2 linked regions of the Homo sapiens genome follow. The protein of the gene in region 1 interacts with the protein of each later gene in a pairwise test. Each region holds a gene or a part of one and is shown on either strand. Other genes may lie near its edges. The genes, in order: DEGS1 and NAGPA.

Region 1 (3,815 bases):
GTAAGGCTGTACAGGATTCAGCAGTGTCTAATTCGGGTCCCATATAGAAGTTAAAATTTTTAAATGAGTAATTCAGCTTACAGGGAAATATATTTTCATCTCAATCTTTTATGCTATATCATACCTCAGGCTTTTTAAAAATTATTTTTGAGATGAAATTTTAAAGTTCCCCCGGTACCCAAGTTACCATATTATATAGTATAAAGATAGTGAAATACAAAAATGTAACAAATACTAATACACTGTGATTAATAGCTGTTTATTAGCTTTTTAATAAAGCAAAACTTTATAGTGAAATAAACTAGAAATAGCTTTTTATTTTTTATATATATTTATTTATTTTTGAGATGGGGTCTTGCTCTGTTGCCCAGGGTGGAGTGCAGTGGCACAATCTTGGGTCACTGCAGCCTCTGCCTCCGCCTCCTGGGTTCAAGCAATTCTCCCACCTCAGCCTCCCATGTAGCTGGGATTACAGGCATGTGCCGCCACGCCCGGCTAATTTTTGCATTTTTAGTAGAGATGGGGTTTCACCGTGTTGGCCAGGCTGGTCTCGAACTCCTGACCTCAGGTGATCCACCCACCTTGGCCTCCCAAAGTGCTGGGATTATAGGCATGAGCCACCGTGCCTGGCGAAATAGCTTTTTAGAAGCTTTTTAAATGATATGCTTATAAAATGACAGACATGAGTGAAACATCCTCAATGACGATAATACACAAGTCACAAGTTTCCTGTGAGTGAAACTGAGCAGTACAGAGTCAGGCTGACTGTTTAAAAGCCAGATTCACTTCTTGGTATCACCGAGCTCTTACTCTGAAATTGTGCCAGGGGAGCTTCTGAGCATCACTGGTCTCAAGTTTAATAATGCAAAAATTCCATTTTATCATCTAAAGTTTTGGAGAAGAATCCCTTTGGCACTAATGATATTTACTCCAGCACCATCTCTCCTTTTTGGTGCCTCTTCATTCTTGAGTAGGGACTTATTGTATCATCCATCACAAAATCATACAGTACTTTTATCCAGGAATTGTAGTGAGGGAGGTTGTCATAGTATTCAGCTGCTATTTTCCTCACCTAGAAGGGAAAAAATACAGCAAGATGAAAAATGAGTGTTACTAGGTTCTTTCAAAGATGACTGATGAATGGTTGACACAAACACTGAGAAGGGAAACCATGAGACCTGCCTCCCTCCTCTCTCTTAAAAAAAAAAAAAAGCAGCAGCAGCAGCAGCTGTGGGAATTCTAAACAAAAAGCAGTCTACATTTCAGCAGCAGTTGAATACACTCGACCCTCTAGGTCTCTCTCCCATCACATTCCAAGGGACTAAATATCTGGCTTATTTGTAAAATTAACAACAAATACATACAATTAGATTAACTTGATATTATTAAAGAATGTACTGCATGGATGACGCCATAGAATATAAAGGCAACATCTGATCCCTGCCATCCAGGAACTTACAAATACTAATAAATTGTGGCATGCTAATTAGATAGAAATTAAGCACTTGGCTGGGTGCGGTGGCTCATACCTGTAATCCCAGGACTTTGGGAAGCCGAGGCGGGTGGATCACCTGAGGTCAGGAGTTCGAGACCAGCCTAACCAATATGGTGAAACCCCATCTCTACTAAAAATACAAAAAAATTAGCCAGACATGGTGGCGTGCGCCTGTAGTCCCAGCAACTCAGGAGGCTGAGATAGGAGAATTGCTTGAACTCGGGAGGCGGAGGTTGCAGTGAGCCGAGATTGTGCCACTGCACTCCAGCCTGGGTGAGAGAGAGACTCCATCTCAAAAAAAAAAAAAAAAAAAAAAAAGCACTTATCAAATGTGCAATTCTGCCATCTCAAGTTAAAAATGTCTTTTCATCTCAAGTTAAAAAACTATCTGGATGGGCACAGTGGTTCGTATGTATAATCCCAGCATCATTCTGGAAGGCAAGAGAATCACTTGAGCCCAGGAATTTGAGACCAGCCTGGGCAACACAGGGAAACCCATCTCTCTCTTTTTTTTTTTTTGAGACGGAGTTTCGCTCTGTCACCCAGGCTGGAGTGCAGTGGCACAATCTCGGCTCACTGCAACCTCCACTGCCCGAGTTCAAACGATTCTCCCGCCTCAGCCTCCCGAGTAGCTGGGACTATAGGTACCCGCCACCATGCCCAGCTAAGTTTTTTGTATTTTTAGTAGAGACAGGCTTTCACTATGTTGGCCAGGCTGGTCTCGAACTCCTGACCTCAGATGATCCACTCACCTAGGCCTCCCAAAGTGCTGGGATTACAGGTGTGAGCCACTGCACCCATCCAGGAAACTCCAGCTCTATAAAAATGTTAAAAATGTTAAAAATTTTAACAAACCATTTGGAGGATTAAAAGAAATTATTTAAAAAATCAGCCTGTCATAGCATGTGGCTGTAGTCCTAGCTACTTGGGAGGCTGAGGCAGGAGGATCACTTGAATCCAGGAGTTTGAGACCAGCCTGAGCAACACAGCAAGACCCTGCCTCTACAAAAAATAAAAAATTAGCCAGGCATGGTGGCACGTGCCTATAATCCTGCCTACTCAGGAGGCTGAGGTGGGAGGATCGCTTGACCCAGGAGTTGAGGCTGCAGTGAGCTATCGTACCACTGCACTCTAGACTAGGTGACAGGGCAAGACCCTGTCTCTAAAAAAACATAAAGTTAAAAAATAAAATTAAAAATAAATCCTAAGTGTAACCACTAAGCTTAAGGACCCAAGAGTGAACCCTTTGTAAAAGTAGGCTGGAAGATGCAGTATTTATATTCTTGCTCTTTTTGTTTTTTTTTTTTTTAATGAACTGCTTGGACTGACAAAATACTAGCCTGGCCAACATGGCAAAACCCCATCTCTACTAAAAATACAAAAATTAGCTGGGCGTGGTAGCATGCGCCTGTAATCCCAACTACTTGGGAGACTGAGGCATGAGAATCGTTTGAACCCGGGAGGTGGAGGTTACAGTGAGCCGAGATCGTGCCACTGCCCGCCAGCCTGGGCGACTGAGTGAGACACCGTCTCAAAAAACAAACAAATGAAAAAACAAAATTAGAATATGTATCAAATCCTTTACTTACCAGTGGAAGACTTTTTCCAGGAATGTTGGGGAAATCATGATGTTCATTATGATAACCCACATTGAAGGTAAGTAAATTCAGAGGCCCATAATATGAGTAAGTTTCATGACCCTTTAAGAACATGTAATGCTCAGCTATAAAATGTCCAGAAATTGGGTGCAAACCCAGGCCAAGTAAAGATGCTGCCAACATGTAGACTAAGGATTTAATTCCCAAAAAGTAATAAATTAAAATGTCAAAAGTGACCTGTGCCACGGTATTGATAACTTCCAGATACGTAATTGGTTTGGGGTTGATGAACAGAGGTCGAAAGGCATAAAAGAGAGGCTGAAGAATAACCCATATAAACTTTCTGAAAGCGGTACAGAAGAACCAGCCCTCAAAATCGGTAGGAATATCTACATCGACGCCATCAGCTCCAAGGTACCGATGATGATCCATGTGATACCTCTTAAAGGAAATTGAATATGGAATCCCAATAGGAAGATTAGCAAACATTCCAAACCAGCGATTCCACATTGCTTTGCAGTTGCCAAAGGCAGCATTGTGGGCAATCTCATGAATAGCCAGAGTCATTGAGTGGTTAATGCAACTGCCAAACGCATAGGCCCCAAATATGACCCATTTCCAGTCCAAGTCTTTTACTATGTAAAATGCACCCAACTGGGTGAGAACCATCATAATTATAATCCATATCAAATTGGGATCAGGTTTCATCAAGGACTTTATCT
Region 2 (3,611 bases), on another chromosome or scaffold:
TGCCCCGGCCTCACCTGCACATCACTGTGTGACTCCCCTGTGGCTGCTGCGGCCCGTTCCACAAAGGGCTCGGCTAAAACAAGGGTCCCCGGGCTCTGGCTCCAGGGCCCACCTCAAATCCAGCACGGTCTTATCTTGAGATCCTAACTGCAGTGCCTCTGTAGAGATTCTGCTTCCAAATAAGGTCACGTTCAGGGGCTAGTCCAGGGAGGGCAGGGGGTGCTTCACCTTTAGCCCGGCTCTGTACACATGGGCAGGGGCAGGTATCCTGTCCTGTCGAGAAAGGCTCTGACACTGGAGGCCCCAACCTTTCTCCTCCCTCCTCCCTCCTCCCATCTCCTTTCCATAGAGTGTCCCCTTGGCTGGCATGGGCCGGGCTGCCAGAGGCCTTGTAAGTGTGAGCACCATTGTCCCTGTGACCCCAAGACTGGCAACTGCAGCGTCTCCAGAGGTACCTATCCCTCCAAGGGGAGGGGTATGGGCAGACGCTCCTGCTCCGGCCCCTTCAGCCTGTCTCTGGTATGTTACAGTAAAGCAGTGTCTCCAGCCACCTGAAGCCACCCTGAGGGCGGGAGAACTCTCCTTTTTCACCAGGTAGGTGCTTCTGTGGGAGCTGGGGCCAGGGCGGGAGGAATCCCCCTTCTCTCCCGCACCCTTCCCCTGTGAGGTCCATCTCTGCCCTTGTCCCCTGCCAGCTCCCTGCCTTAGAGGAAGCGGGACCAGCTCTCCCCACTGTCTGCTTTGGGGACCCTGGAGCAGAGCCCAGGGCCTTCGAGTGCCCAGCCTCTGTTGTCAGCATCCCCCACTGGAGCTCAGAATGCAAACTGGGCTAGATGAGATCCCAGGGTGGGGGCAGGAGGTTTCCTCATTCTGTCACCCAGGCAGAAGTGCTGTAGTACAGTCAGCTCACTGCGATCCTCCCGCCTCAGCCTCCCAAGTAGCTAGGACGACAGGCACGTGCCCCCATGCCCGGCTAATTTTATTTCTTACTGTTTTTTAGAGATAGGATCTCACTATTTTGCACAGACGAGGTGCACAGTCCTGGGCTCAAGTGATCCTCCCACCTTGGCCTCCCAGCCCCCATGCCCAGCATCCAGCTGTGTTTTATTTGGCTTACATAATTTTTAAAAAGTTAAAATATATCAGCAGCATCTAAAAATCAGTAACATTCACATTTTTTTAAACTTTTTTTTTTGAGACGGGGTCTCACTCTGTTGCCTAGGCTGGAGTGCAGTGGTGCGATCTCAGCTCACCACAACCTCCGCCTCCTGGGTTCAGGCAATTCTCCTGCCTCAGTCTCCTGAGTAGCTGGGATTACAGGTGCCCGGCTAATTTTCATATTTTTAGTAGAGACAGGATTTCGCCATGTTGGCCAGGCTGGTCTTGAACTCCTGACCTCAAGTGATACGCCCGCCTAAGCCTCACAAAGTGCTGGGATTGCAGGCATGAGCACCACGCCCAGCCTTAAAAACCTTTTTAATGGCTTCTCTTAAAATATCAGGCCAGGCGTGGTGGCTCACGCCTGTAATCCTAGCACTTTGGGAGGCCGAGGCAGGTGGATCACTTGAGGTCAGGAGTTCAAGACCAGCCTGGCCAACATGGTGAAACCTGGTCTCTACTGAAAATACGAAAATTAGCCAGGCGTGGTGATTCGAGCCTGTAGTCCCAGCTACTCGGGAGTCCAAGGCAGGGGAATCGTTTGAAGCCAGGAGGCGGAGATTGCAGTGAGCTGAGATCATGCCACTGCACTCCAGCCTGGATGACAGGGCGAGACTCTGTCTCAAAAAAAAAAAAAAAAAATCAGGAGATGGGGCAGCACGGACCTGCATTGTACGTCATGACTGCCTCTGCTGTTCCCTGCACATGTCTTAAATGTTGCCCCATCCCCACCTAGTCCATTTTGCTCATAACATTCCCTGTGTGGTCCCTGGAGGCACCTGATTTAGTGCTATCTATGCCGGGTAGAGGGAAGCCCCTCCAGTGCTACCCAAGCCCTGAGCCCACCCAGCAGTCCCCCACTTGGGGCTTCTCTCCTGTCTGCAGGACCGCCTGGCTAGCCCTCACCCTGGCGCTGGCCTTCCTCCTGCTGATCAGCACTGCAGCAAACCTGTCCTTGCTCCTGTCCAGAGCAGAGAGGAACCGGCGCCTGCATGGGGACTATGCATACCACCCGCTGCAGGAGATGAACGGGGAGCCTCTGGCCGCAGAGAAGGAGCAGCCAGGGGGCGCCCACAACCCCTTCAAGGACTGAAGCCTCAAGCTGCCCGGGGTGGCACGTCGCGAAAGCTTGTTTCCCCACGGTCTGGCTTCTGCAGGGGAAATTTCAAGGCCACTGGCGTGGACCATCTGGGTGTCCTCAGCCCCTGTGGGGCAGCCAAGTTCCTGATAGCACTTGTGCCTCAGCCCCTCACCTGGCCACCTGCCAGGGCACCTGCAACCCTAGCAATACCATGCTCGCTGGAGAGGCTCAGCTGCCTGCTTCTGGCCTGCCTGTGTCTGCTGCCGAGAAGCCCGTGCCCCCGGGAGGGCTGCCGCACTGCCAAAGAGTCTCCCTCCTCCTGGGGAAGGGGCTGCCAACGAACCAGACTCAGTGACCACGTCATGACAGAACAGCACATCCTGGCCAGCACCCCTGGCTGGAGTGGGTTAAAGGGACGAGTCTGCCTTCCTGGCTGTGACACGGGACCCCTTTTCTACAGACCTCATCACTGGATTTGCCAACTAGAATTCGATTTCCTGTCATAGGAAGCTCCTTGGAAGAAGGGATGGGGGGATGAGATCATGTTTACAGACCTGTTTTGTCATCCTGCTGCCAAGAAGTTTTTTAATCACTTGAATAAATTGATATAATAAAAGGAGCCACCAGGTGGTGTGTGGATTCTGAATCATGGACTTAGGTCACTGCTAGGGCTTAGCAGGTGTGGCTTATCCTGAAACAGAAGTCACAACGGCATCCTGGAGCCAAGTCCTGTTCCCTGCTTGTTTAATCCAGTGCTTATCAAACTTTAATATGCCACAGGTCACGAGGAGATCTTGTTAAAATGCAGATTTGGGCCTGGGGTGAGGCCAGCAATTCTGCGTTTCCAACAAGCTCTCTGACGATGCTGATGCTTCAGGTCCCCAGACCACACTTCTTGTCTTTCTTAGAAACAGGGTCTCGCTCTGTTGCCCTGGCTGGAGTGCAATGGCACGATCTCGGCTCACTGCAATTTTGACCTCCTGGGCTCAAGTGATTCTCCCACCTCAGTCTCTCAAGTAGCTGGGACTATAGGCACATGCCACCATGCCCAGCTAATTTTTAAAATTTTTTTTGCAGAGAAGGGGTGTCACTGAGTTGCCCAGGCTGGTCTCAAGCTCCTGGCCTCAAGTCAACCTCCTGCCATGGCCTCCCAAAGTGCTGAGATTACAGGTTCGAGCCACTGCGCCTGGCCCCTGACCATAATTTGAATGACCAGGGCTTAGTTTTTCCTCACAGTATTTTTATAGAATTTAAATTAGTTACCCATGTTTAAAAGTCAAGAGATTTTAAAATAAATAAGGGCGGGGGTGCAGTGGCTCACGCCTGTAATCCCAGCACTTTGGGAGGCTGAGGTGGGCGGATCACCTGAGGT

Evidence for each region.
Region 2: the proteins of DEGS1 (region 1) and NAGPA interact in a two-hybrid assay, tested with the Homo sapiens proteins (one large-scale study listed by BioGRID and IntAct).

The regions. Positions count from the first base shown.
Region 1 is NC_000001.11:224,189,589-224,193,403, reverse strand, and holds part of DEGS1 (sphingolipid delta(4)-desaturase DES1), read right to left. Parts: coding exon 3,085-3,815; intron 2,313-3,084; coding exon of another isoform or gene 2,271-2,312; exon of another isoform or gene 2,248-2,270; intron 1,073-2,247; coding exon 926-1,072; 3' UTR 1-925. UniProt on the Homo sapiens protein: Has sphingolipid-delta-4-desaturase activity. Converts D-erythro-sphinganine to D-erythro-sphingosine (E-sphing-4-enine). Catalyzes the equilibrium isomerization of retinols.
Region 2 is NC_000016.10:5,024,118-5,027,728, reverse strand, and holds the end of NAGPA (N-acetylglucosamine-1-phosphodiester alpha-N-acetylglucosaminidase precursor), read left to right. Parts: intron 1-349; coding exon 350-451; intron 452-530; coding exon 531-594; intron 595-2,043; coding exon 2,044-2,251; 3' UTR 2,252-2,885; downstream 2,886-3,611. UniProt on the Homo sapiens protein: Catalyzes the second step in the formation of the mannose 6-phosphate targeting signal on lysosomal enzyme oligosaccharides by removing GlcNAc residues from GlcNAc-alpha-P-mannose moieties, which are formed in the first step.